Linked DNA regions of Homo sapiens. The protein of the gene in region 2 interacts with the protein of the main gene of each other region in a pairwise test. Each region holds a gene or a part of one and is shown on either strand. Other genes may lie near its edges.

What was found.
Region 1: the proteins of GMCL1 (region 2) and CFAP410 interact in binary tests that used the Homo sapiens proteins (3 or more experiments, as listed by UniProt).
Region 3: the proteins of GMCL1 (region 2) and BEGAIN interact in binary tests that used the Homo sapiens proteins (3 or more experiments, as listed by UniProt).
Region 4: the proteins of GMCL1 (region 2) and XAGE3 interact in binary tests that used the Homo sapiens proteins (3 or more experiments, as listed by UniProt).

Annotation. Positions count from the first base shown.
Region 1 is NC_000021.9:44,329,378-44,336,398, forward strand, and holds part of CFAP410 (nuclear encoded mitochondrial protein C21orf2), read right to left. Parts: intron 6,428-7,021; coding exon 6,381-6,427; exon of another isoform or gene 3,886-6,380; coding exon 3,656-3,885; intron 2,638-3,655; coding exon 2,466-2,637; intron 1,543-2,465; coding exon 1,446-1,542; coding exon of another isoform or gene 1,086-1,445; intron 950-1,085; coding exon 821-949; 3' UTR 1-820. UniProt on the Homo sapiens protein: Plays a role in cilia formation and/or maintenance. Plays a role in the regulation of cell morphology and cytoskeletal organization. Involved in DNA damage repair.
Region 2 is NC_000002.12:69,832,644-69,839,664, forward strand, and holds part of GMCL1 (germ cell-less protein-like 1), read left to right. Parts: intron 1-4,903; coding exon 4,904-5,027; intron 5,028-6,813; coding exon 6,814-6,910; intron 6,911-7,021. UniProt on the Homo sapiens protein: Possible function in spermatogenesis. Enhances the degradation of MDM2 and increases the amount of p53 probably by modulating the nucleocytoplasmic transport.
Region 3 is NC_000014.9:100,542,408-100,549,428, forward strand, and holds part of BEGAIN (brain-enriched guanylate kinase-associated protein), read right to left. Parts: intron 5,721-7,021; exon of another isoform or gene 5,090-5,720; intron 4,256-5,089; coding exon 4,094-4,255; intron 3,861-4,093; exon of another isoform or gene 3,501-3,860; intron 2,660-3,500; coding exon 2,593-2,659; intron 1,559-2,592; coding exon 1,451-1,558; intron 537-1,450; exon of another isoform or gene 1-536. UniProt on the Homo sapiens protein: May sustain the structure of the postsynaptic density (PSD).
Region 4 is NC_000023.11:52,865,084-52,873,104, forward strand, and holds the start of XAGE3 (X antigen family member 3), read right to left. Parts: upstream 3,001-8,021; 5' UTR 2,923-3,000; exon of another isoform or gene 2,730-2,922; intron 2,219-2,729; exon of another isoform or gene 2,167-2,218; intron 2,073-2,166; exon of another isoform or gene 2,059-2,072; 5' UTR 2,051-2,058; coding exon 1,970-2,050; intron 1,456-1,969; coding exon 1,350-1,455; intron 1-1,349.

The DNA.
Region 1 (7,021 bases), on a different chromosome or scaffold from region 2:
GCTTCCTTGGTTTTGGGGGGCACTAGGAAGGTCCCCAGGGCCACGGGTCACTGCCCAGATTGTGGCATCCTCATAAGACTTGCGACTCTTCCCAGAGGAAAGAAAACCCCTCTCAGATGCTCCAAGGACTCCCCTAGTCTAGCTGCTTCCTGTGCCAGGCCCGGACCCCAGGGCGAACAGGCCTGTTCATCCACAACCTCACAGCTGAGGGCCCTCCTGCAGTTCTTCACAGGAGAGAGAAAGGAAGGCGCACCTGCCCAGCCCGGCCAAGAAAACAAAACTCTCTCCCATGGGTGCGGGAGGCTGCTGCCTGCCTGCTGAGCAGCTCAGGGCAGATGTCGCTATGGGTGCCAGCATTCTCGAAGTCTCCCTTGCCCAACAGAAATCTATCCAAGGACCAAGGGCTGGAATCGGCAAAGCCATCCGTGAAGACCTCCTCATTCTGTGGAGAAACGGCCCTTGCTTTCAGGAAGACTGTCACAACCATGCCTTGGGAAACGTCACCTCCAGATCAACCTTGGGAAAATCTTTTATTAGGGAGGACAGCCTGCAAAATCCTCCCTTTAAGAGCCCAGGCCAGCCTAGAACCTCCAGACCACAGAAGGGGAGTCCTGGGGACAGGACTGGTGTAGACAGGCATCTCCACCGCCCCGGTTAGCCAGTACCTAACACCCACTCCTGCCCTCGGCCGATGTGGCAAACCGGGGAGGCTTTTGTGTGGGGCCGGGGCTGCGGCCATGGCAGCCACCCTCCAGCTCCCGGGGGCTGGGGAAGACGCTGGGGTCCCCGTGGAGGCTGGAGCGGCGTTCAGGTCCTGCGGTCACTCGGCGTGCTCCTGCACCTCTTCCCCACGCAGGGCCTGCAGCCGGCTGCCCACAGTCTGCTGCACGGCCTCCAGCCCCTCTGCATCCAGCTCCCGCAGCAGCAGCAGGATGGCAGTCAGGACGTTCTGAGGGCAGAGGGGTGCGGACTAAGCCCACCCGGCACGGCGAGGCTGCTTCCCTCCACAAGGGCTGGGGCCTGGCCAGCGGTGCCCCACCACGGAGCGACTGGTCCCGGGGGTGTGGGCCGTCCAAGTGACTGACCGGCACACTCGGAGAATCTGAGCAGAGGAGCCCCGCCTGTGGACGCGTGTGTGGCACCTCTTCCACGTGACTCCTGTTGCCCTCAGCCCAGCAGGGCCCGGGCCCACATTCCACAGACCAGGACAGCAGGAGAGGCTGAGGGGCCAGGACGGCTCCGTGCGGGGCACGTGTTACACGTGTGTGCGCATTCACAGACCCGCACACGCAGCTCCCCCTGGGGCACAGCTCTTCAAGGCCCTGTGAGGCTCCATGCTCCCTCCCCACGGGGCCCTGTGAGGCTCCATGCTCCCTCCCCACGGTTTCTGTGCAGTGGGTGCAGTGGGCAGAGGCAGCCGCGGCCCCTAGCGGCCCGCCACTCACCCTGCCCCTGTGGCTGCTCGAGGCATCCCTGGCTGAGAGGGAAGGAAACTGGCCCCGGGAAGGCGGCTTCAGGCCACGTTCATCCTGGGCGCCGCTGCTGAGAGGGAGACAAAGGCGTGTGAGGGTCAGGGGGCTCGTGGCACCGGGGGGGCCTCTGCAAACCCTGTCTGCGGGTCGCATCCAAGCAAAGGAGGGGCTCATACAAATCCCACCTGGCACACGGGGGCAAGAGAAGGGAGGCAACTCCTGGGAGGTCAGGGGCTACAGATGGCAGCTCCTGGAGAGCCCGGCACTTACTTCACCTGTGGGGCGCCCTCCCGGCACCCTGGGGCTCCCCAGCTGTAACACCTTCCACCCAGGGCTTCAGGGGCAGGGTGGGGGGCACCCGAACACACAAATGCCGGGGGAGAGCTCCTGACCATGGGGTCAGGCCCTGTGCCGGATGGCAGATGCCTAACAGAGATCACATCCCGATGCCCCCACCACAGGCACCAGCAGCGGGTGTGATCTGCCAAGCAGGAGAGAAGTGCCCAGCTTCTGTCAAATGCGTTCGTGACCCGCTGCCAACTGCCCTGGGAGGCGCCGGCGTCTCACTGCAGAGTCAGCCCTGTGGCCCCTCCACGGCCCCCAGGCCCAAGGCCATACGGGCACTGATGGCCGTGCCCACAAACCATTCCAGTCACTGTGGCCCTAGGCCACCCCCCCCACCAGGGGCTCCCTGCACCTCACGAGCTCTGGTGCTGTGAGCCTTCTCTGTGCCAGGGCACGGGGCCTGGCTCACCCCCTCTCCTGCTCCCTGGCACATCCGCTGTTGGGCAAAACATGGACCTGCCACTGAAATCACTACCTGGGCACTGAGTCACTCCCAGAGAATATGGATGAGAACAGACACTCCCCCCGGATAATCCCTGTCCCTCACTTCCCAGAGACGCAGCTCACGGGAAGCCCCATTCACTCCCCGTGGGAGGACCCTGGGGGACAGGGATGGGCTGCGGAGTCCCCGCTGCCCTCCAGCCTCACGTTGCCTCCTCCTCGCTGTCCAGCGGGTCCCGGCCAGTCTCAGCAGCGGAGCTGAGGGAGCTCAGTGTGCAGCATAGCTTGGGGCCGCCGTGGCCTGTGCCCTCTCTCTCTGGGGCCGCAGTGATCTCCTCTCCCTCACTCAGTGCACGGGACAGCTCCTCCTCCGTCACAGCTTTGGGATGAAAGACAGAAGACAGCATGAGTGGCCTCACCCACGTGCAGGCCACATGCACTGCAGCTCCCGTCCTCACTGTGGCTTCAGGCACAGTCTGCTTGTGAAATGCATGCACGTGTATCCACCTCCAGGGACAACTCCCAGAGTAGCAGCCGGTTCCTCACTGTCCCATCCCCAGCCTGGCACAGGCTGACACACAACAGATGGTGGAGGGCTGCTCAGGAATCTCAACACCAGCCTTGGCCAGAAGCAAATACTCCTCAAAACCTCAACTAAGACACAATAGAAAAAGGAACAGACCATATTGAATTTATTCCATTTCTCTCATATATCAATTTCCCTGAAGTTTATATTATTAATATCAATAAAATTGTCTGGGAGAAAATAGTGGTGTCTGTATACCTGACAAGGATGAGACACTAGTGTGCTGAGAATGCCAAGGATGAACAAACAGCATGAAACCACAGCCTGGAAAACTGTGTCGGTGCTGGCGCTGGCTAGAGGAGGCACGAGTGCCTCCAATAGGTGGAGCGCAGCAGCAGGCACTGCGGTGCTGGGACGGCCCCTCCCCACGGCAGGGGCGCGATGGCACCGCCACCCTAGGTTCACAGTGGCCCGTGGAGCCTGCCCAGTCCCTGTGGACCAGTGCGATGCTGCTTGCCAGATACTGACGCCCCCGCTCGCCATGGCGCATGGCGATGGTCAGAGCAGGGCTGCTACTCACAGAAGCAAAAGAAGGAACCCTTTTGCTTTGCTACCAGGTCCTGCGGTCGTTGGGGGATACCCAAACTGTCAGTCCCAGGAGGGACCCTACGCTGCGCTGCTGCATTCGGGTGGCGGGATCAAGAGGAGACACAGAAGCCAGGGGAACAGCCTCTGGAGGAGACTTCACAGGACACATCTATGTCCCGCCAGACCAGGTATTTGCAGAAAAGGAGAAGAGAAAAGAGGGCTGGGGACATCCCCTTCCAGGGATTGTTTTGGGAGGGCCGGTGACTCCGCTGCGGCCACCTACCCTGGTTGTCCAGCTTCTGTAGGCGCGGCAGGGTGCGCAGCACGGTCATGCGGTAGCGGTGGGGGCTGGTGCCGCAGCACGGGTTCTCGGCCAGCCACAGCACCCGCAGACGCGGCAGCCCCTTCAGGTAGAAGAGCTCAGCCAGGCTGGGGATGCGGTTCCTCCGCAGGTACAGCTCACTCAGGCGCTGGCACCGGCTCACAGGCTCCAGGGTGGAGATGCTGTTGACACTGCACGGAGACCAGCACAGTCAGCGAGGGACGTGGCCAGGGCCCCCAGGGCCACCTCTCAATCCCCACCCCCAGTAAAAGGCACTCATGGGACCTGTGTCCCTGCCCTCTCCTGAGAAGCCTAAATCGGATGTCACAAGTCACGTGCAGCAGGACCTGGGCCGAGGAGAGAGCTGTAGGAAGGCCAGGCCCTGAACTCAAAGGCGGACTGGGGTGGACCCCACCAGCAACAGCCCCTTGGCCCGACGCTCCACATCAGCTCCTCAGGGCGCTAGAGTGCGGGAGGTGGGGGATGTGGCCCTCCTTCACAGGTGAGGAAAATTAAGGCCTCTCAGGGGACATATCATGTTGCCCCAAAGCAGGGAGCGGCCAGAAAAACTCATGGCAAAAACTAGGAGCCAGCTCCACGTGACATGGGAGTGAGCACGGACCTTCCAAACCCCCACTTGAGGGCGGCAACACTGGGGATGGGCCTCATTTCCATTCTACAGAACGTGGACGCGTCAGAGAAGAGAAACAGCAGGCCTGGAGCGGGGACCTGCAGGCTTTACCCTGCAGCGTGGGGTCCGTCCCCTCCACAAGCGAACACGCGGAGCCGCTCCCGCAGGCCCTCAAAGGCGCGGAGCCAGGGCCCCCTGCCTGGAGGGCTGCACTCGCGTCCGGCAGGCGCCTCAGAAGGGCGGTCACCAGGCCCCCATGGGCAGCCTGCCGTCCTGAGCCCCCCTCCCCATGCCATCCCTTCACTCGGGGTTTCCCAGGTCTCATGCAGCTCCTAGCTATGAGGCCGCCCCATTTTACCAAGAGCAAAACTCCGGCTGTGGGACTCTTTCCAGGATGGGGTCTGCCTCAGGCACAGGCAGCAGCGTGATGTACCGACCGCGTCCGCGGCCTCGAGGCTTCCTGCTCCGCTCCAGTGCAGTCAGGCGTGCAGGCACCACGCACCTGAGCTCGGTCAACACCCCTGGGGTCCTGTCCCTCCCGAGATGTGACAGAAATGGCCCCACACACGAGCGGCCTGATGCTCGGAGGCCCTGTGGCCCCTGGGTGACTCAGTGAGCGGCAGGGATAGGGCTGGATCCACAGCCCCGCCCCAAGCTTCCTGCCACCGTGGGAACCACAAGCTCCACGTTTCCCTGTCAGGTAAGCCTTTCGGAGGCAGGCCTGAAATCCCAGCCTCACTGTGTCGCCTGACTAGTGAAACGAGCCCCGCGGCAGGCACGCGCACCCCCCCTCAACCTCTGGGCGGGCACGCGCACCCCCCCCCCCCCCCCGCTCAACCTCTGGGCGGGCACGCGCACCCCTGCTCAACCTCTGGACTCGGGCTCCATCTCCTCCTCATCTCCCTGTGGGGTGGGCACTTGTAATACCTCCATGTTACAGAAAGGAAACTGAGGCACAGAGAGGGCCATGCCTCGCCCAAGGTTAGCCAGCCAATAGATGGGAGGGCTGAGATTTGACCCATGAGCATGCCTCCAAGCCCATTTCATTCATTCAGCAAGGCTCGGGCAGGACAGGCTGGTGCCCGCGCTGGGGATGCCTGAACACCAGATGGACTGGCCTCAGCCCATGGCGGGCAGCAGGCTGGGCACGGGCATCAACATGGCAATGCCAACCTCAGAGGGCATTACGGAGGATGGGCAGGGGCTGGCCTACCCCGTGGCTGCCTGTGAGATCAAGAAGGTAGGTCACAGTCAGGGACCAGGGGCCTGCAATACCCACTCTCAGAGGGCAAGCCCTAGAGACTTCTGAGCTGCCAGAGGGGTGGGCCTTCCCCACAGGGTTTAAACCCTTGTGAGCTTTTAAATGCGGAAACCCACAGAAGGCGCCCATCCAGCGTCTGGTGGGCAGTGGTGAGCCATGAGCGTCTGCTCCCTCCGTGGGTCCCACAGTAGGCAGGAGGGAATTCAGGGATAAAGGGAGCTCTTCTCTTCCCCAGAGCCCCCAAATACACCCCAACTGCCTGAAAGTCCAGTAACATTTGTTCATTCAAGCTTCCCTTAGTCTGCTGGGAGGGCAGTGACCCCAGAAGACGGGCACAGGTCATGGGGTGCAGAGAAACTGGTAGGCAGTGGTGGCACTGGGGGGCAGAAGAGGCCAGGACTCTGGGGGTCCCAGGGCAGATGTGGCCACCGTGGGGGCGGCCAGGGCGGGCCACCGTGAATCCTTAGGAGGGCTCCACCACCGACTGGCCCAGTGAACACAGCAATGGCTTATCGGAGCACACAGGCCAAGGGTGGGCAGGCGTACAGCAGGGCAGGCAGGGGACAGGAGCCATCAGGAGGCCCAGGTGAGGCTCTGAGGAAGGAGGGCTGAACATGGGGGCCACAGGGTAGGCCCAGCTCTCGCTGTCCCGGCCCCTCCCCTTCTGGAAGCCGCCCTCAGTCTGTGTTGGAGGTTTCCAGGTTATGTCACAGTGCTGGGTCCCACTGGAGGGACGTGAGGCTCTGCCCCGGCTTCCAGGCCCCAGGCTGAGCATGACAGCAGGAGCGAGGTACCTGAGCGTGATCACCTCCAGGCTGGGCATCTCCTGGCAAATGGAGATCTAGGAGGAAAAGAACATGACTAGCAAGCATGGCACAGCAGGGCATCGCGGCCGCACTGCCATCAGCCACAGAGAACTGTCGAAGCCACGGCCAACCCACTTCCGGGGCCTGAGGGGCACGGCCTTACTCAGCCAGTGTGCCCAGGGTGAATGCCCAGGGCCTGAGGGGAGCGGCCCTGCTCAGCCAGTGTGCCCAGGGTGAATGCCCAGGGCCTGAGGGGAGCGGCCCTGCTCAGCCAGTGTGCCCAGGGTGAATGCCCAGGGCCTGAGGGGAGCGGCCCTGCTCAGCCAGTGTGCCCAGGGTGAATGCCCAGGGCCTGAGGGGAGCGGCCCTGCTCAGCCAGTGTGCCCAGGATGAATGCCCACGAGTATGCCAGGTTCTCCTCTGACACCACCTTGCAGCCCAGACGCCCCGCAGACTGAAGGAGAAATGTGAGGCTCCTCCTTGCACGCACTCTGTCTTTATTAAATTTTACGACAGCATCGTTGCTGTCAGATGCTGCCAGCAGTGGAGACAGAGCATTCATTACTTTAGATGCCCTCAAAGGACATCAGGTAAGGGGACCCCAATGTCCCCTACGCAGGGATAGAAAG
Region 2 (7,021 bases):
TAAAACAGATATCAAGTAAACAGCATATAGTTGAGTCTTGCTTCTTTTGTCCAACAGGACAATCTAACCTTTCAATTAGTAGTTAGACCACTTATATTTAACGTAATTATTGAAATATATGTCACAGTGCATTTGAAGGAGAGAAATCACACAGCAATTTGAATACAGGAAATTTAATATAAACATTATTAACAAGGCACAGAGAATTAACTACTGAGGACAAAACGCTAAGGTAAAGAGATCCCTAGAAAATACATGTAGTAGTCAGTACTTCTAAGGCTGAGGCAGAATAGCCACAGAAGGAACAAATTTGGAATAGGTGCCCCCACCCCTTTCCCAAGCTAAGATTCAGATGATGTTGAAGGAGGTGTGGCTGTAGCCCACTGGATGGTGGAAAAGTTTGCTCAAGTGTGGTAAGCTGAGGCTGGCAAGTAGGACACTGCCTACTAGGATGCCAACAAAATTATTTGGAGGCCTTTTGGCCCAGAAGGCTAAAGATATTTACTATCTAGACCTTTACAGAAAAAGTGTACCAACTCCTAGACTACATGAGTGGACTGGAATGGAAAGTTTTTAAGGCAAACCTTTATCGGAAAATGCATATCAGAATTTAGTGTCTGTATATTACTGGAAGATGCTTGGATTATTCAGCCCAATACGGATGCAGGGTGTAAGAAAATACTAAGACGGGCCAGGCGTGGTGGCTCACGCCTGTAATCCCAGCACTTTGGGAAGCCAAGGCAAGCAGATCACTTTAGGCCAGGAGTTTGAGACCAGCCTGACCAACACAGTGAAACCCCGCCTCTACCAAAAAATACAAAAATTAGCCAGGCTTGGTGGTGCACGCCTGTATTCCTAGCTACTTGGGAGGCTGAGGCAGGAGAATTACCTGAACTCAGGAGGCGGAGGTTGTAGTGAGCCAAGATTGCGCCACTGCGCTCCAGCCTGAGCAACAGAGTAAGACCCTGTCTCAAAAACTAAACAAATAAAAATTTAAAAGAGAAAGTATTAAGATGTTGAATTTTGTGTGTTGGCCCTAGTATATACTTCCTGAGGTTGTCTGGTGTGCTCTCCCACATCAACAGACCACTTTATGAGAAGTTTTAGCTTTTAGGCCCAACTTCCACCTCATACCTTTGTCAACTGCATGTTCTACTTTTACATTTACGAGACTGTTAAAACCCACACTGTTCTACAACCAGATCTTGAGTGTTTTGTCCGTAGCTTGTCTCTAAAAAATTGAAACGACATTACATAGTTATAACTAAGTAAATATTGTTTCAGAAGAGTTAAGTAGTATGCTAGGATTATAAATCATACTTGATGGGTCCAGTGTCACAACTGCTTGTCTGTTCAAAGGGAGAAATTTTTCTAACCTCACAGTCATATGGAATCTTTTCTTGTATTCCATCAAGTGCTTAAAGTCAGGCCCTGCTTTTGTTTTTATCTTATTTGGACAGTGCCTTTTTTTGTATTGCTTTTTTATTGTCCTAGAGTTTATAATGGCCTTTCCCCCACTCTTGTCAAAATAACAATATTCCTTCATCATGGCTTCGGGTTTTTCTGAAAAAACACAGAAAAGTCTTTTGAAACACACTTTCATGGAATCCTTCTCTAAAACCTAGACCTCTTCCATCCTCCTGTTCCAATCTGGATTTGTCTACTCTTATGCTGGGACTTACTTTCACCCCATCTCTAGGATTGAATCCACTATTTTGTGTAGCCTGCATTTCTTTCTCGCTTATTTTAGGAACTATTTAATACATCCTCAAGTATTTTCCAAGGAAGGGTGCAAAAGGGGGTAATTTGTGCGTATCTAAATATAAATTTAGTCTCTTTTACTTTATTCATCCTCTGACTGGGTATGGAAATCTAAAGTAACTTTCTTCATATCTTTGATGACGCTGCTTCATTGTCTTCAGGCCTACAGTCTTGATGAAAAATTTGATTCTGGTGTAATTCTCTTTTCAGGTGACCATTTTTGCTCTCTGGAACTTGTGGAACTTTTTCTTTGGTATTTTGGGATTTAATTAGAATGTGCTTAAGTGTGGGTCTTTTAATGGCCTTGGTACTTGTTGGATCCTTATAATCTGGAGACTCATATACTACCTTAGTTTTGGGAAATTTTTTTCCATTAATTTCTTCCATAATTTCCTTTCGCTTCTTATCTTTATTTTTTCTTTCTGGGATGCCTCTTAACTGGATTTTGGATTTCTTGGATTATGCCTGTCTCTTCTTTTTTCCTTTCTTTGTCTTTTTGCTTTATGTTCTGGGAAATTTCCTTTAACTTTTTCATCACTATCATTAGGTTGTTTGGCCCTAACTATGAGGTATTTCTTTTGGACCAGGGGTGAAAATTACTAAAATATGAAATGTGCTGTGATCCATGAAAGCTTGGGAACCTCTGCTCTACAAAGCATGCCCCACCTATAACCAACTTCGTAGTCTTCTTACTCAAAGAAGAGGTACCTTGGAAATAGATCTATTTACTCAATTAAAACACCATACATCAGTTATTCATTCTTAAATATAAGTGGACAAGCAAGGAAGGATCACCCAACATGAGGAAGAAAAACAAACAAACTATTCTTTGGTTTATTTGTTTTTTTAAATTTCAGTAATCATGTCTTTAGTCTCTAAAAGCTCTTTCTTGTTCTGAGTGATCCTTTATCATAGCAGTCTATGGGGTAAATATAATAATCTCAGATCTCTAGGTATACTGGTGAGAGGGTGTTTTTTTCCTCTCTTTTCCCTGAATTATATGTTTCCAGGGGTGGAGGGAGTCTCTCTGTCTCTCTGATATGCTCTTATTCTTCCTCATGGTGGGTGATCCTTCCTTGCTTGTCCACTTATATTTAAGAAGGAGTAACTGGTGTATGGTGTTTTAATTGAGGAAATAGATCTATTTCCAATGTACCTCTTCTTTGAGTAAGAAGACTACGAAGTTGGTTATAGGTGGGGCATGCTTTGTAGAGCAGAGGTTCCCAAGCTTTCATGGATCACAGCACATTTCATATTTTAGTAATTTTCACCCCTGGTCCAAAAGAAATACCTCATAGTTAGGGCCAAACAACCTAATGATAGCAGATTGCATGGTATCTGAAAGATGTTACTGTGTTTCCTTCGAATTTAAAATACTCCACATGCCTCTCTGAGTTGGCTGTGGTGCTCTAAGTTCAGATGGTATCCTGAACTGGTGAATTTCACACACGGTTTGGGAACCATGACTTAGGGTGAATGGATTGGGAGTGAACAGGCCACAGATTCTTTAAATTTCAGAATGAGGATTGCTTTGTCTGGGCACCAGCAGCTACACTACAGCCTTAGATCTTCCATTAGCTTTGTGCTATTTCTAGAAAAACCTTGGAATCTTTTTGCCTCAGTATCTGTACTCTCCTTATCTATACTCTGTGTTCATAGAGTGGAGAAGGCACTAGTTTCCCCATTTTCTGCCCCTCTTCTTACTTCTGCCTTTGTTTCCCTGAGACCTCATCCTTCTTTTCTCCCAAGGGTTCTGATGGGCAGATAAGCTTAGCCTCCATCCTAGTCCTCCATAATGTATTTTTTGGCTGTGGCTGTCACTGTTCTTTTTCATTTGAATTTGTTTTCTAACTTTCAGATCTGTATAAATCTCTCATCAAGTGATGAGCCTACCCTCACCTTTTCCTGGTGTGGACTTATTCCTTTTTTGTACTCTTAATCTTTAATGTAATTTGGGGAGGGATGGGAAGCCAACATGTGTACATTCTGCCGTCAGGAACTGGAAACTACATTGTCTCTTGATTTCGCATCATAACGAGTGAAGTGGATACTATTAATGTCCTCTTTTTACAGCTGTGATAACTGAGCAGCTGGGACTCAAACCCAAGTCTGTTACCACTAAGACATGTGCTGTTTTTATTGTCGGCTAGGAAGAGGTGTTAAGTACACAGGTGTTAAATTCGCCAATTCAGGATGTCATCTGAAACAATTACTTCATTTTTAAAAAGAGATTGAAGGTTTTATGTGCTAGGAAAGCTTTCAGAATTGGTCAGGAATTTAAGATATTGATCAGCCTCTGCCTAAGGCCTTTTCTTAGTTACTGGATCATTTTGAGCAATGATTTTCAAACTTTATTTTTTTAGTCAAGTCTTCCTTTAAATTAAATCTGTGCAGAAATCCAGTATGTTTACAGATAGAATAGGTGATGCTGCTCTGGTTGAAGTTAGATGGGATGCTCACAGTTCACTCCTTAGCTCTCCTTGGTGGCCCCTAAGACTTCTCCTTTGAGCAGTTTTAAAAACCTTTCATCTAAAATAAATAAATAAATAATTTTAAAAAACAAATAGGAAAAGAAAAGAAAACCTTTGATCTAAGGTTGCAAACCGTTTGTCCAGTGGCTGGAAAACATTTTAAGTAGTTTAAGAATAGGTTGGTACCAAAATAAGATTAAATGTAAATTATTTTAAAATTACTTGGGTAGGTGAAATGTTTACTCTTGTTCTCCATTTCCTACTTGCAGATTATTGCGCTATTTGAGCTCCTTCATAGTGCTGGTTTCTAAATAAGGAAATAAGCAAAAAATCAACATGCTAACTTCTTAATCTATTGAATGGGTAATTAAATTAGTCCAAAATTGCTAAAACATGTGTAGTGAAAAGTCTGCCTCCCATGCTGCCCCCCTTTCTCCACTATCTCTCCCGTGCATAGAGGACCCCAGAGATAACCACTATTATTAGTTTCTTATGTACTCTTCTAGACACAAGAAAATTTGAATATATACTATCTCCCTATCCTTTTACACAATAGGTAAGTTGACTCTATTTAATAGAAATTGAATAAAAGGAGTATTTAGAAATATATGCAAAATCAGTAAAACATTCAGTTTTATATAAATATGTGACTTTTTCATTTCTTTTAACAGGAAAAAATTAAAGAGTACATCTAAATATATTTATCAAACATTATTTTTGAATGGTGAAAACAGTGACATTAAGATTTGTGCTCTAGGAGAAGAATGGAGCTTACACAAAATATATTTATGTCAAGTAAGTATTTTTTCTATTTGAGTAACAGGGTAGTCACTGAAACTCTTAAGTCATGTTCTTCCTCATTGCACTTCACAGTAATCTTTTGCATGAACACCATAGTGGTTAAATCCTCTCATTTGATCAGTCTGTAAGAAAAATGGCAAACATTGTTAGTGAAAACTAAGTTTGGTCTAGAAAGAGATTTTGATATTTCAGTATCAGACTAGCCTAATACTACGTATTTGTCATTACTTCATAAAATGCTTTTTTCGGTGCCTTCTGTTGATAAAAGGGGAAAAGTTGGGGAAAAAATATTTAACATTAAAGTTAAGATTGTAGTGTTTATTTTGCTTATGGTTATTTAAATTGGATAAACTCATCTGAAATGTTGCTTTGTAGTTCACATTGAGTGTGAATAGAAAGTTCTCTCCTGAAAAATGCAGGTAAAGACAACACCAAAAAGTATATAGACTAAGTAGATTTCTGTACTGAAAATATTACTACCTGCCACCCCACTTTAAAAATTCAGAACTTTCATAGCTGACGTGGTGTTGGGCACCTGTAATCCCAGCTACTCAGGAGGCTGAGGCAGGAGAATTGCTTGAACCTGGGAGATGGAGGTTGCAGTGAGCTGAGATCGTACCACTGCATTCCAGCCTGGGCAACAGAGCGAGACTCTGTCTCAAAAAAAAAAAAAAAAAAAAAAAAAAAATCGGAGCTTTCAAAATAGAATACAATGTTGCTCTAATGGCCCAAATATTTTATTCATTTTCTTTCATCAAATCTATAAGCTAGGTATTGTTTGAGGCACTAGAAATAAAACAACAGTTTTTATCCTTTGGAACTTACATTTTTCCTCTTTACCATTTGAGAATAATTACTGGTAAGACAGCATAGTATAAAATTTTTCAGTAAAAGTATTTGAAAATGAATTGCCTTCTCTAACATTTTAATCATGTTTTAAAATGTGTTTTTGAAACAAATTTATTTTGGCTTGAAGTATGTTGCCCAGATACTATATCAGAATATTGCTTTTAACTTCAGGGTATGATTCATGTTGTTTCTTTTTAATATCTGAAAGCAGTTTTGTGAACTTGAGGGTAAGAATACCTCTGTTAAAACTTTACCCCTCGTGGAAGATGTATTATAATTCAAGCCACATGCTAAAATATAAGCCCCCTGAGGACAGAAACAATATCGATTTTGTTTATTGCTATATTCACAGTGCCTTCTACATACTAAGTACTCAGTAACATTTTTAAATAAATTAGTTAATATTTGATCCATTTCAAAGTAATTCTAATTATGAGGAGTGCTATCTGGCAGATACCTAAAGACTTCATTCTGTACCTTTCCAAGAATTCAGGTCCATTCTGGACATTTCTCATTAAACTAAATTTTGGATTTTCCCTGGTTTCTTTGGCGATCATCCTGTTTTTGCTGACTTGGGACTGGTTTGGTCCTTTATAGCCATTCAGGTGTACAGTAAAGATTCAACAGTTTGAGTAAAAAGCTAACCAGGTTCAAATAATATACATGAATTCAATTTAGATAGTAATATAAGAATTTTAGTTTTTTGTCAAAAATAGTACTAAACCAAAAGTATATTTTGATACACCTAATAGTGTCCTTATCTTAATTTCTTTTCTCCTGTGGACATATTTGGCAGTTCTTTTTCTGTTGAAGTAATAGAATGGATGAGTTTAGTTAATGGATAGAATAGTTGCTTAGAATTAGAAATGGGCAAATAATTTGGAAGACACAGAAAGTACTTGATAATCGTTGACTTTTTTTTTTGTTTAAGTCTGGCTACTTTTCTAGTATGTTCAGTGGTTCTTGGAAAGAATCCAGCATGAATATTATTGAACTGGAGATTCCTGACCAGAACATTGATGTAGAAGGTAACTACCACAATAATTACTATTATGCAACAATCGTAAAAACATAATCTTATTCTTCTGGTAGAAGATAAATAATTCCTTCCAGCCTTGTAGTCTAGAAAACTCCTTTTA
Region 3 (7,021 bases), on a different chromosome or scaffold from region 2:
TCCCTGCTTCTCATCTGCATGCTGCCTGGGCAGTCTCCGCCGGCATGCCGGCCTTCACGCTCAACTCCAGACCCGGGCCTCCTGCTGCCCTGGTGACATCTCCGCTCCAAGGGGTCCTGTGCATCTCCCACCCAGCTCCTGTCCCTCCCCAGCTGTCCCCAGCCAGGAAATGGCAGGCAACTCCTTTTGTTTGGGCTCTGAATCCTGTAGCTGGGTTGGACTCAGCTCTTCTTCTAACAACCCACATCCTAAATCTTGGTTAGTCCTGTTGATTCTATTTTCAAAACACAACCAGAATCCCAGCCCTCTGCCCAGTTCCACCGTCATCTGAGCCACCATCATCTTTTGGACTATGGTCCTGGCCTCCTCCTGATCTTCCTGCTCCTGTCCTCGTCCCTACAGCCTGTTTCCAGCATGGCAGCCACGTGAGCCCTGGGAAGCTGCACGTGCAATCACGTTGCTCCTCTGTTTTCAGAACCCTCCATGGCTCCCCACTGCACTCAGAATAAAGCCCAGGTTTCTGGGAGGAGCCTCTACAACATTGCCTCCTATGGTCTTTCTGACCTCAGACCCTGGCTCCCCCTCCCGCTGGGCGCTCCTTGGCCCCTTTGGGATCCTCCGAGTTAACCAGGTACAGCTGCACACCACGGTTGCTTCTGCCTGGAAGCAATGCTTCTCCCACGGATGTCTGCATGGCTGGCTCCTTCACTCCCTCAGGTCCTGGCACAGCAGCCCCTTCCAGAAGCACCCTCTTGAAATCTGCAGGCCCTGCAGCTGGCGACTCCCTGGTACCGTTCTTCGCTTTCTGTTTCTCTATAGCATTTCACACTTCTAACATACCCCAGAGTTTGCCCCACTCAGATGTGAACTCCACGTGGCCAGAGGTGTTTTTTTTTTTGTTTTTTTTTTTGCCTGTGTTGTTCACACCATCATCTTGGAGCCTAGTAGGGTCTGGCAAGGTAGAAGCTAATTCGTGAATGCAGAGGCAGCTGTCCAGGGTCTGTGGAGGGCAACTGGGCCCATCTCACAGGGTCCCTGAAATTAGGCCCCATGGGCAGCCACACGGCTGTGATGCAACACTGGGACTGGCCAAGGGCAGGAGTCCTGAGTGGCCATGACCCCACCTTGGGATCAGGAAGCCTTGCCTTGAATGGGATAATATGGCCCCGCATCCCCTAGCTCAAGTCCTTACAGCAGAGGGTCTGTTTAAGGACACCCTTGGCGTCCTCAATGAGACAGCACCATCTTTCCCCAACTGCAGCAGGTCCTTCTCAAAGCCCTGACCAGCCTGTCCATCCACCTGTACCCTGCACCAGCCCCTTGAGGCTGGGGCCAAAGCAGCTGAGCTCAGGACCCTTCAGAGTCAGAATGTGACTCCCAGTGCATCCTGGGAAGCCCTCGCCTAGGCCCACCGGCAGTCTTCCATGGGCCAAGTGTGTGCGGCACTCACGTTGTCCTCTGACAGCTTGTCGATGGTCACCTTGGCTTCTAGCAGATGGCTGTTGAGGGCAACAATCTCGTGGCTCAGCGCACGCTTCTCCTCCTCATAGTGCTGGCCCTGGGGGTGGGACAGTGGGAGGAGGAGGCCCGTGGTTGGCTCCTGGTGAGCCAACCCAGTCGCTCGATTGCACCCCCTGGTTTGTCCCTTGTAGCCATGAGTGACAAGACACTTAGAGGGCCAAGGGTGTGGGGTTTATGAGCACAGACAGACCCTGGTTCAATTCCTGGGTCCAACACTGCCAAGCCACACAGCCTTGGGGACGTCACTGCCTCTGAGCCTCAGTTTCTCATGTGCAACACAGAGGTGACAGCGTCCTGCCTCAGGAGCTGGGAGTGGGGACGGAGGACAGATGACTTGTGCCTGGCATAGAGCCCAGCCCACCTCACTGGACAGATTGGGAAACTGAGGCTCAGGAAAGGGCCGGTGTCCAGGCACCCAGGCAGAGCCAGGCCCAGCCCCCAGGCCTGCCACCCCCCGTCTCTGATAGCACCACAAAGGTGGGCAGGTTGTTGCTTTCAAAACCAAAATGAGCTGGTCACCAAAGTAGAAAGAAAGGAAACCTCTTCATCCTAGTGAGGGAGTGGCACCAGAAACCCACACCCTGCCCCTCTTCGACATGTCCCAGCAGTGTGTTCACAGAGAAAATGGCGACCCCACTGAGGTCACCTGCAGGTGGTGTGAGGGTCCCCACAGAGGGGTCCCCATGAGAGGCGGAGCTGGGGCTCAAACCTGCCTCTGGCTCACCCAGGGCCTGAATTCGGGCCTCCCTATCCTCCTGGGCCCAGGTCCTTGGACTGGCAGGCTGAGCTGGGGGGCCCGTTCCCAGTGTATGTCCTCCGTCCACAGCCCCTCTTACACACCCCCAGGCTGGAGTGCTCGCACCCGCCACTCAGGCAGCACAGGGCAGCCCTGGACCCAAGTACTTCCTTAGCCTGAGAGCACACACCCTGCTCCACATGTTCCATGGAGAAAGGGGTGGGACCAGCAAGACCTGTGTCCCAGCTCCTGAGTGGCCCAGGGGTGTCAGCTGGGTGGCTCCCCCCGGGAAGGAGGTGTGGGGTGGGGGAGTGGGCGCTGCGTGGCGGCCTCACCATGCGGTACAGCTTGTCCTCCAGCTCCTGGTTGATCCTCTGCAGTGCCATGTAGTTGCTCTGAATCCTGGTGCAGGAGGCAAGGGGGTCACTGCCATGCAAGGCCTGTCCCTCCCACGACCCTTATGGCCGCACAGCCTGCTGAGCAGGGTGGGGCTGAATTTGGACCTCCTGAGCTCACCCCACCAGCTTCACCCTGGTGGAATGTGTGCCCCTCTGCACACAGCAGAGAACATCCCATTAAAGCAAACTTTTGTAGAAGCCTTTCCTAGGCCAGGGCCCAGGACTGTATTTCCCCCTCCACCCCGGGACCCCCTGAAGATGGGAAGGGAAGGCTTGTTATTCACAAGAGACTCTGTCCCATCCACACGCGGAGCCAGTTTACTCACATTTGACCCACAATTCTTACAAACCTGTTATGGGGTTGACAGTTCAAATGCAAATGAGCAGGGAAGAAACTTAACACTAACTATGTGATGGGCCCCAGGGTGAGGCTGGAGACATCACAGTGAACAAGACTCGGTTCTGCCGGGTAGGAGGAGTGGAGCTGAGTGTCAGGTGGGAATCAGGTGCTTGGAGATTCCATTGCTGGTGGGAGGGGGCTTGGGGATGGTGTCCAGCCTCAGACAACCTATGTGTCGTGTTATGGCCCCTGTCTTGCCAATAGGGAAACTGAGGTGAAACTTTAATTACTTAAAGCAGTAACTGGCAGGGCCCAGATTTTAACTGAGGTCTGACTGCACTGCCCAAGCTTGGTTTCCACATGAATGGAGGGTGACATTCAAAACACTCAGGAGCTGGGGCTGTTCGGAGAGGGACAAACCCTCTCCCTATGGCAAGTCCTCCCTAGGGGCAACACCAGCCGATTCTCTACAAATACCTAAAACAAATCAAGCCAACAGCAAAGGTTGCATGCTTCTTGCATTTTCTGTTTAAGAAGATGAGAAAGTGCATATTACATTTCAGAAAAACATCCATTTTAAATGTGCACAAGAAAACTGCTTTTAGAAAAGTTTGGTGTTTGAGGGAGTCCAGCACAACTGGATCGACACTTCATTAGCCCGTACGCGCTCAAGGGAAGGGTCCCTAAACTGGTTCATCTCCGGGCTAGACACAGCTTTTCCCATCAGGACCCAGGGAACCATGGCTGGGCCCCGGGTGGACCAGTCTGGGTCTGGAGATCTGCTGGGTTCAAATCCTGGCTCAGCTGCTCCATAGTGTGACTTTGGAGGAAGAGCTTCCCCTACCAGAACCTCTGGACTCCCCATCTGAGTGGAGTCAACAGCCAGGGTGAGAGGGGAGCACCGCGTGCGGCTTTCCGGGCCTCGGGCCCTGCCCCACCCCGGCCCTCGCCCCGCCCCGGCCCTCGCCCCGCCCCGGCCCTCGCCCCGCCCCGGCCCTCGCCCCGCCCCGGCCCTCGCCCCGCCCCGGCCCTCGCCCCGCCCCGGCCCTCGCCCCGCCCCGGCCCTCGCCCCGCCCCGGCCCTCGCCCCGCCCCTCACCTGCGCAGCTTCTCCGTGACCTTCTCCAGTTCCTCCTGCGCGCGCCGCAGCTCGATCTCCAGGTAGTGGCGCGTGGAGTCGAACTCGGTCTCGAGCTTCTCGAGCTTGTGTGTGGTGTAGGACAGCCGCTTGCGCAGCTCGCCCTTCTGCTCCTGCAGCGCGCTGCAACGACATGGCGGCGGCGGGCCGGGCCGCGGCGCTGAGCGGGGGAAACTAAGGCCCGCAGGCCAGCCGGGGCGTGCCGCACTAACACGCGAGTACCGGCGCGCGCGCGCGCGCGCACACACACACACACACACACACACACACACACTCACACACACCCAGCCTCCCGGGCGTCACTGAAGACCATGGCGCCCCAGAGTCAGGGACTCTGACCCTGAGCCAGTCTGGCCTGGGCGGTTCCTCAGACTCCACCAGTGTCCCTCACACAGGTAAATCCCAGGTGGTGGCTGGAGGAGTCTTTGACCCCAGAACCTGGCCAGTGTGTTGGGGGCGGTTTAAAGGACCCAGGTACAAAGAGCACCCATCAGCACCCAGGCTATCACAGAGCTGGCCCTGGGTGGCACAGGTGACTGGGGCCCTCACTCCTGCTCCTCCACAGTGCTAGGTTGGGATGGCTGAGGCCCAGAGTCAGCAGTGCCATGCCCAAGACCAGACCTGCTTTCCCCAAAATGGCTGTGTGGCCCTGGGACCCTGGGTCACTTCTCTGGGCCAGAGAGATGTTTGGTGGCAATGTCCCATGCCCGGGCAGTGTCTGCCACCATGGCCAATGAGGCTGCATGCAGCACGGGAAACCTGGCAAGGTCCTGGCCTGCTCAAGTTCCCCTTCCTCCAGGAAGCCTTCCAGAAACCCAGACAATTCTTGAGGCTCTATTTTCTTCCCCCAGAATGGGGTCTCCTGGAGGGTAGGACCCCAGGATGCAGAGCCCCACATGCTCAGGAAACAGAGACCCACTATGACCCACTCTTCCGAGCCACCTGCCAACAATTCACCTGAACTAAAGCTGTGCAAAGGCAGGAGGGTAGTGTGGGGGCCTCCAACAGGGATGGCTCGGAGCTCCCCAAGGCAGGGGCTGCACTTCCGGTTGTCTGGGTCAGAGTGGGGTCAGCAGCCAGCAGTTCTTTCCTTGCAATGGGTGCACAGCCCAGGGGCTATCTGGGACCAACATCTTTTGGATTGTGTTGCTGTGAGATGGGGACGGGACAGGCAGAAGTCCCGGGTGTCATGAAGGAAACTTGAGGTGTGGGAGAGGGCCTGGAACCCTGACTCTGCCCAGATGTGCTGTGGGACCTTGGGCAAAAGCCCGCGTTCTTGTGATATTCCCGACCCAAACCCAAGCGAGGGGAGTAGAGGGCAGGCAGGAGGCTCCCAGTCCCCCTGGGGCCACCACTGTCCCCCAGCCCCGAGCAGAGGCATCTTCTGTCTGGGCCCCGTGAGTAAACCGCATGTGGCACTGCGGGCACACACCCAGCAAGCCTCCAGGAAGCACTCTTGGATTCCTGCCCAGGGCTATATTTTTAAAAACAAATAAAAATAAAGCGTCGCTTACGTTTTTGAGAACCTCAGAGAAGGGCAGGGCGGGTCTTCCCAAGAGTCAGTCACCACAAGAGGAAGTAGAGTAACAAGCAAAGAGGGAAGCCCTGAGGCAAAGTGCCACAGCTGCCCACGTGGGTCTGCCTCCGGGAGCGCTCTCTGGGACAGTGCTCAGGCCTCCTTCCACCTCCTCCAGGCAGCCTTCCGTGGCTGCCCCACTTCTAGCACTCTATAGCTACAGGTCCCAGGCTGCTTCCCACACAGACCTGTCCTCCCCAGGGAGGTGGTGAACTTCCTGGGGACTCCTATGCCATCCTGGGCTCCTAGGGCAGGCACAATGGGCTGCACAGCAGCCCCTGAAGTCGACTGTTCCCTGCAGGGGCTCCTGGTGTACCCACAGCCCTCGGGAAGAGGTGAGGGCGTCATCCATCCACCCACGTGGCCACCTCAGCCCCGAGTCCTCACCCCTTCTCCAGCCACACCCCAGGCCTCACTGAGCAGCCTTAGGTCCTTGCTATTCTGAGACCTGCACCCCTAGCTCACTGTGCCCCCTCACCCAGCCCTGCCCCTTCTGGGCACCCTGAGGTCCCTACCCTCACCTCTCAGAGCAAGCAACCTGTCTGAGACCTCACAGCCAGGAGTAAGACAAACCCTGCCCCTGCCCCGGGAGCCTGCGGTCCAGAGGGGAGGCAGACAATGAGCTAGGCAGGGATTCTCCACGGGGCAGGTGTGGGAGGGGAGGACGAAGGGGCTATGGGGTGGGCTCGGGGCAGACATCTCACAAGTCAGGCAGCTTCACAGAGCCTCAGTTTACCCCTGGCCTTTGGATGGCCTTCCAGATACAGCAGTCAACTCCCTGTTCCACCAGCCCTTAAATACTGCTCCCCCTCCCCAAGTCCTTCACACCCAACCACCTGCTACACCCAACCAATCTTTGGGCTAGCAGTGCCCCCAGCCCCTGACTCTCACACCCCTCTCTGCCTCAGTGTCCGCTTGCTGCAGGCATCGGGCCATGGACACGCACCCCGTCCCCAGGCATAGCTGATGCCCCGCACTTGGCCGCCCCAGGGTTCCTGCCACGTCTTTCCCCACCTCTGCTGGTCCGGCGATCACACCACAGGCCCCTCCCGACCTCGCCCGGGCTGTTCCCTGGGGCCCCGGTTTGCACCTGCACCCCTGCCCTGCATGCTCAGACCAAATCCCCTCCAAGCCAGCTGCACAGGGACCCCTCCCAGGTTTCCATCTGACTCCAGCGGGGTGTCTGTCAGGCTCCATACCCTCACCACGTCCAGCCACCCACCTATGGCCCTCAGGCATCTCCACACCCAACCCGTCCAATGCAGCCACATCCACCACACCTTCACTGCCCTCCACGTTCCCCACCCGGGGGG
Region 4 (8,021 bases), on a different chromosome or scaffold from region 2:
TGAGGAAAAATCAGACCACACTTACATTTCCTATACTTTACCATTGTGTACTATAAACAGTGAGTGTCAGCTATCTAGGAAACCTAAAGACTGCCCAATGGATAGCATTTTAATAATAACTTAAATGTAATTTTCTGAAAGATTAGATGAATATATTGGTGAGCCTATGACAAATCTTACAGTCCTGACACTCATCACCTGTTGAGGTAACTTGAAAATTTTTTGGTTAAAATTAAACAAACTTAGGTCCAAAGGCCCTATATGTAACTTTCCATAAATGAATCCCATTCACAAAAAAATACCGAATATAACAGCAAAATCGCTGTCTTCCACAAGAGTACAGAAACTTGAGTGAAAAAAAAATTAATGGGCATTGTTGACAGTCATATTCTGGAAACCCCTTAACAGTGAATTGCTAAAGTAACCCATGACCCAAATTCTGTCAATGTTTAACTTCAAAATGCTCTCTGTTGAGGAAATAATTTCTGTTTCATGATAATCTTATCGTACTTCGAGTTTTCTAATTATAAAAGTATATAAACAACTCTTTAAAAGCCCCTTAAAATCATACTAATATAGCTACCTGTATGCCAATGTCCTGAATTATCCAGATTTTACCAAACATACTTTCAAAAATACAAAGCAAAGGAAAGAGTGGCTGTCATTCATTGAGCTCTTTTCTGGCGTTGCTATCCTGCTTCACTGAACTTTGTTTTGTCCTGAGCCAATACTGAAGTACTTACAGTACAGACACATTTGAGTATTAACATTTCAAGCAAAATCATTCACGTTTTCTAATGTGAATGGTAGGGAGAACACAAACCTTGGAATGAAATATGAATTCCTTCTCCATGACTCAACTGTTCTTGGTAAGCCTCCATTTCAGAGCCTCAGTTTTCTTATTTATAAAATGGGGCTAACATCCTTATGCAAATGGGCTTTATTCAGTGTATTCAGGTAGGGTGACTTGGCATTCTACATGCTATTAAAGGGTGCATACAATACTGTGGACACCTTGGCTGAGAAGATCAGACAACAACATTCTAAGAAGATCAAAGTAAACTAGTGAAATAATGTATATTTTTGTACATCAAATTAAACAGTTTCATCTGATTTAGCAAGGACTGTATTTTCAAGCATACGAAATATATTTCAAAGGTAAGAGAAGATTCATTATATCCATGAAGCTGCAAACTATACTCTTCACTTTTCCAGCCAACTCTCAGCAAATGTTTGAGATCCTTTCCTAATGTTTTCTTTCCTCCTGTTACTGGTCATGGCATAAGGCATGATGCACACATAGGCCTCCTCCCCTCCCCATAGACATTCTTTCTTTCCCTTCCCAGCACCTTGAGTCTCAGCTGCACCCTGATCTTCTTCTCTCTCCTGACCAGGTGCAGGATCCCGACTTTCAGTTGGTGGTTCCTCTTGCTGAGGCTCCTCATCACCGGGCTCCTGGAACCAGGGGTGTGTGTGTGTGTGTGTGTGTGTGCAGATAAAAAGTTTTGTTATCGATACATTTCAATAATACAAATATACAGAATACATAGATATTTCTGATCATAAGTCTAAAGACATTTCTCCAACACGATTCCACATACTTATTTTTCATAAAGTTACTCTTCCCACAGAGAGGTTACTCTAAGACAGTTGCCCTCAAGGGCTTTGGAAGCTGTTTTAATCTAAGCTGGGATGAATGTGTGTAATCTTTTGCAAATAAGCATGAGAAGGAAATCATGGGCAAAATCTGGGGAACACAAGATCATCCATCCAGACAACAGAAGAACTTAATCCTCTTGGACTAGTCTTTCCTTCATGAGATGCCATGATTATTTTTCTCAGCATGGGAGACCTTTATTGGTATATCTATACTGGTTCAACAACAATTACAAAACATAGTTTTGCAACAACAACAAGTTACAAAAATAACTTTCTGCTAATAGAAAACATCAAAGGTTAAGGCACTCACCAGCATAGGCCCAATCAGCTCAGGAGGTGGTACACTTCTCCTCGGCCTAGGCCTATATGTTGATCTTCCTCGCCAAATCATATTTCACACTGCAAACAGAATACTGTGAATTGGTAAATGCACTTGAAAAGACAGCTATATTTGACCACTTCCATGACCAAATATTAACTTGTCATTTTTTAAAAGTTTGTAAATACTTTCGAACTAAGTCTCAGGGCAAGTGTAAGTATGTGTGCCTTCTGAATGCTTGGGAAGCCATTAAGTTGGTCAAGCTAGCTGAGCAATTTCTTAAGGCTCCTGGCAAAAGACAGGATATTTCCGATGAGGTTTGGTTTCACAACTGAACTCTCCTCCGTGGAGACATTTGGGAAAATACAGCCAGAGAATTAAAACTGCAGTGACCACGGCTTTTGTCACACACCCATTTGCTGGGCCCATTTCCCCCCTAAAATCAAGTTTTGTTGGAATGCAGAGCCCCGCCCATTCAAACCTCCACAGTGGAGTTGAGAAGTTGCCACACAGCTCTGGGCCCTCCTCACTGTACACCTCTGCCAGGCGCTTTACAGACCTCAGGGCCACAGTCACCAACCCGCAGCGTTCCCAGTTCCCTTCCTTAATGCCCACCCTGCTCCTTCCCGGGTCGACACGGAGGAGTCTGGAATCCGTCCTCGGTCGAGGGTTCCAGGGACTCGGATACCTGCCCCAGCACCCCCAGCACTCGCCCCATTTTCACCTGACCCCTCTCAACTACGCGGCCCACCTTCTTCCCTCATTCTGACTTCACCACAACAAGGCCCATGGCAGTGCCACCTCACGAGGAGAAGGACGATCACCTTGAGACCCTTCGGCCTCTGAGGCCACGGGCTATGCTTTCCCACGCTCCGGACAGCCACTGGCTCCTCCTCACACGCACTCACACTTCAACCCTTGGGAGGACTGGCCTGCGGACCTACCAGCTGCGTCTCAGTGGGACAGAAAAAGTCCAGACAGCAGGAACGCGACCCTCACACCCTCACAACTCCAGGGCATTCACCACGTGGGAAAAGGGGCCGAGGGGAAGACACCCAGTGGACATGCGCAGTGAGGTCGGTGCCTGCCTAGTGGGCTGTGGCGCCTCTCCTAGCCCCACCCCATGCCGCGCCGCGCAGTTCTCTACCCTCTCCCAGGTTCCCACTGAAGACTTCGGAATGTGTCTTCTGTGGGCGGTTTCATATGCCTCCGGGACTCAAATACCACAAATAGTTTCCCCCTTCAAAACTCACTCCATGTTCACTAGGTCCTCCTCCCCTCTATGGCCCTCCTTCCTCCCCTGTCTGGGACCCCCACGACAGCAAGGCCATGGCTGTGTCACCACCTGTTAGGAGAAGGACAGGAACCTCAAGGACCTCCCCGTCGGAGGCCATAGACCGCGCCGCGGGCTCCTCCTCACAGTCTCTCCCACTTCAACTCTGGGAAGACTGATCTTCGGACTTACTGGCTGACTCCTAGTCAGCAGCACAGAAGGAAGTCATGATGTCTCCTTGCACAGCTCTGCAGGGACAGAAGGCGGACAGCAAGGCACATGGACAAGGGACTTGGGCAGCAAGGGACGTGCACACTGAGTCAGGCACATGCAAGGCCACCCGGGGTTTTCCCTCTCTCCCCAGGCTCGCATCCCTAAGGTGTTTGTAGTAGAAGGAAAGGGACTAAGAGGCTTCGTTCTCTCTCTTGCCCTACCATTCTCATGCATCCAGAAACACTGGGGACAGTCCCATGTCACCATGAGTGGAGGATGTGTCTCAGACCTTTTGTGACAGAAATAAATTATTTTATTATATATATTCATACATACTTCTTTCTCATTTATATATGCATGGGTGTCTGCCATGTTGCAGGAAATATCTGGGATGCTGGAAATGTGAAGACCAAGGAACCACACGTGGTATGTCCCATGGAGGCTACCACACTGTGGTGGGGCAGACAGACAGTTAAACAGAAGAGCAGTTGAACTGCAAAGGAGAAACACGGGGAACGGACCCAGGGGAGTAAAGAACAATGAATGTCGTGGCCAAGAAGCAAGGGAGAAAACAACACAATTTCTCAAGAAGATAATATTTCTCCATTGCCTTTGCACCTTTTTTGAAAATGAGTTTATCATGTCTGTGAACCTATTGCTGGACTCCATTCTGATCTGTTGATTTTTCCCCAGTACCACATTCCCTGGATTACTATAGAATTAACATGACTCTTGAAATTAGGTAGTGTGATTTCCCCAAAGTTATAGTTCAGAATCGTTTTGGTTTTTCTCGTTCATTTTCCTTTCCATATAATTTTGAAAAAATGACTCCAATGAAGTGGGTTGTATAAGTTCATGCAGTTTCGCTTTGAAAGGCAGCAGATAAATGTGTTAGTAGCTATAGGAGGACATGGGGGAAGAAGGGGAGTTCCCCCCTTAGCTTGGAGAATGATCCCATTTAGAGGGAAGAGTTGGTGGTTCAGGAGAGAGGAATGATCATTGCAGGAGCAAAGCTCCTGAAAAGGTGGGAGGCATGGGATCCTGAGCTGAGGTGAGGGGCTGGCTTTAGTTAGGAGCATTGTATGCAGAAGGGCGGCAGAGAATGCCAGGGCAAGCACAGGTAGACTGGGTTTTAGAAGCTCTAAGAGTTCCCAGCAGATCGCTTCTCTCCTCTAAATGAATCATTATGGGAGGTCATTCAAATGGAGGAGAGTTTCTAGCATTGTGTGGGTGTTTATATAACTATAGAGAAAGTTTCTGTCATCTTAGAGAATACATCAATCATCATGAACAGAATATTCCTAGAAATATGAATGTTGAAGGTGAGCTCTCAGACAGGAATGGGGAACACGGTGTTGGAAACATGTGGACACACAATCCCTGTAAGAAAGTAGCAGAGAATTTGGCTAGAATGCATTCTCTTAGATGCAGAGTAGAACTTGTAAGTGATGAAATTGTATATGTAGCTAAGAACATTTCTAAGCAAAGTATTGAAGTTGTGGCCTGGTTTCTCCTCGCTGTTGGTTGCAAAATGTAAGGGAGGAGAAATAAAACAACAACAGAATTGCTGAGCAAAAAGGAATCAGCCCTTGATTATTTAGAAGATTCTCAGCCTAACCAGATAGCAAGCTCTGGAAATAGGGCCAAGGGTGTAGCAGGACAACTGATTGCTAAGGATATGAGCTATGTGAGTCATGGATCCAGTCAACCATCTCAGCAGAATGCAGGGAAGGAGATGCATTTATCCAGGAAAGATCTAGGGAGGATTCAGGGTCTGTTGGCATGGATGCCATGAATTGCATCAGAGGCCAACATGTTTTTGAGGATTTTATACCAAAAGAAGCACAGCCAGCCTGAAATGAAAGGGACAGAAATGGGACAAAATAAAGGAAGAGTGACTTTGAGGGGAGAGCTACAGATGCAGAGGCTGGCAAGCTGCCACTGCCTCTATAGGCCCAGACAGCAATGACCTGGGGAACAGGAATCCAGACGCCTCTTCCTGAGCTCCAGATGGCAGAGCCACCTCCTCAATTTCAGAAAACAGGGCTTCTGCCCAGGGGTGAGGGAGCAGGGCTAACATTCAGGGCCAAGAGGGCAGAGCTGCCACCCTACTAGGCCCAGAGGACACATCATCAAGCCAAAGAGGACCATTCTGAAGCCTTAAAATCTCTTAAAGTCTGAAACCTTGCTTGGACCCCATGACTCCTTTTCTCCTTCCATCTTCTCCATTTTGGAATAGGAATGTTTCTACTATGCCTGCACCTTCATGCTGTTTTGGAAGCAGATAACATCTTGTCTGGTTTCACAAGTTCACAGATGAAAATAATTTTGCCCCAGAATACAACATACTCTGACTCTCACCCTTTCCTGATTTTGATGACATTTGAATGAGATTTGGGATTTAGAGTTGATGCTGAAAAGAATTAAGAGTTTTGAGGATGTTGAGATGAGATGAATGTATTTTAGATGTGAGAGAACATGAATTTGAGGTGCCAGATGGTGGACTTTTACATATTAAATCATGTCCCCTTCAGAAATTTATGCAGGCATAAATCATAGATATTGCATGTACTGTTCCAGAACACCACAATAAAGCAAGTCTCACACATTTTTTTATTTCCTAGTGCATATAAGAGTGATGTTTATAGTATGTTCTCACTCATAAGTGGGAACTAAGCTATGTGGATGCAAAGGCATAAGAATGATACAATGGACTTTGAGGACTCAGGGGAAAGGGTGGGAGGGGGGTGAGGGATGAAAGACTACAAATTGGTTTCAGTATATACTGCTCAGGTGATGGGTGCATCAAAATCTCACAGATCACCACTAAAGAACTTACTCATGTAACCAAATACCACCTGTTCCCCCAAAAACCTATTGAAATAAAAAATTTTAAAAATGATAATAAAATAAAATAAAAGTGATGTTTATACTACACTACAATCTGTTAACTGTGCAATAGTATTATGTCAAAAAATGTACATAACTTAATTGGAAAATACTGTATTGCTAAAAGATGCTAAAGATCATCTGAGCCTTCAGTGCGTTGTAACTTTTGGGCTGGTAGAGAGTCTTGCCTGGATGTACATGGCTGCTGACTGATCAGGGTGCTGGTTGCTGAAAGTTGGGTGGCTGTGGCAATTTATTTTCTTTTTTTATTTACTTTTTAACAAGCTAATACTACATGGAGGGCTGTGGCAATTTCTTAAAGTAAGACAACAGTGAAATTTGCTCCATTGATGTACTCTTCCTTTCACGAAAGATTTCTCCATAACAGGCAATGCTGCTTGATAGCATTTTACCTACAGTAGAACTCCTTTATAAATTGGAGTCAGATCTCTCAAATCCTGCCATTACCTAATCAACTCATCCTTTGCTGTCATTTCCACAGTGTTCACAGCATCTTCACCGGGAGTAGATTTCATTGCAAGAAACTACTCTCTTTATTCATCCATAAGAAGCAACTCCTTACAGGTTAAAGTTTTATCATGAGATGGCAGCAGTTGAGTCACCTCTTCACGCTCCACCCTTGTTCTCTTGCTGTTTCCACCATGTCGGCAGGTACTTCATCCACTGGAGCCATGAACCCCTCAAAACCACCCATGAGGGAATACACGGTCTGCTGTCGTTATGAGGAGCTTTCTTTACATGTCACTTAGATCCAATTAGTCCATGGTGCCATTCAGTTCATCTATATGTTGCTGACTTTTTTCCATTGGTTCTGTCTGATTTGATTATGCATTTTAAAGCTTTGTAGTTGAGTTCTGTGCAAAAAAGAGGTAATATAGCAGGTCTGAAACTACTATCCTTAGAAAGGCCAGCTTGCAAGACTGGCCCTTGCCTGGCATCTCTGAACTTGATTTCAGGAGGTTTCCCACCATTCTCCATCTGATAAGAGTGGTTTACTCCTCCGAAACTGTTCAAGCAATATGTTCTATGCTGAACACCAGCTTCCCTTCTGGGAATCTGAAATGTTGTTGCCTGTTAGGCAGAGAGTGCCTATGTGACCAGTCCCCAGTAAAAACCTGGGGCACTGAGTTTCTAATGAGCTTCCCTGGTAGACAACATTTTACACATGTTGTCACGATTCATTGCTGGAGAGACAAATTGTGTGACTCCATTGGGAAGGGACTCTTAGAAGCTTTTGCTGGTTCCCGCCGGACTTTGCCCAGTGGACTTTCCCCATTACTGATTTAGCTCAGTATTCTTTTGCTGTAAGAAATCTTAGCCACGAGCACAACTATACATTGGGTCCTCATAGGCAATTACTGGAAGTGAGGGTGGTCTTGAGGATCCCTGACACAGTGGCAGCAACAGTGTGATTCTCCAGCAAGACCCTGACTCACTAAAATATGATGAAAGACTTCTTTGAATAAAGAATGAAGAAGCAGGCATGACGAAGCTGTAACACCTGGGAGACTGTGGATTTGCCCATAATAGGAAGCAGCAGCTGAGCTCTTGTCTGTTGTGAAAAATATATGTACTCACAGCATTTCACAGTAATCCCTCCAATGGCAAGAGAGTTGGCCCACTGGATCCCTGAGTCGCTGTTCTATG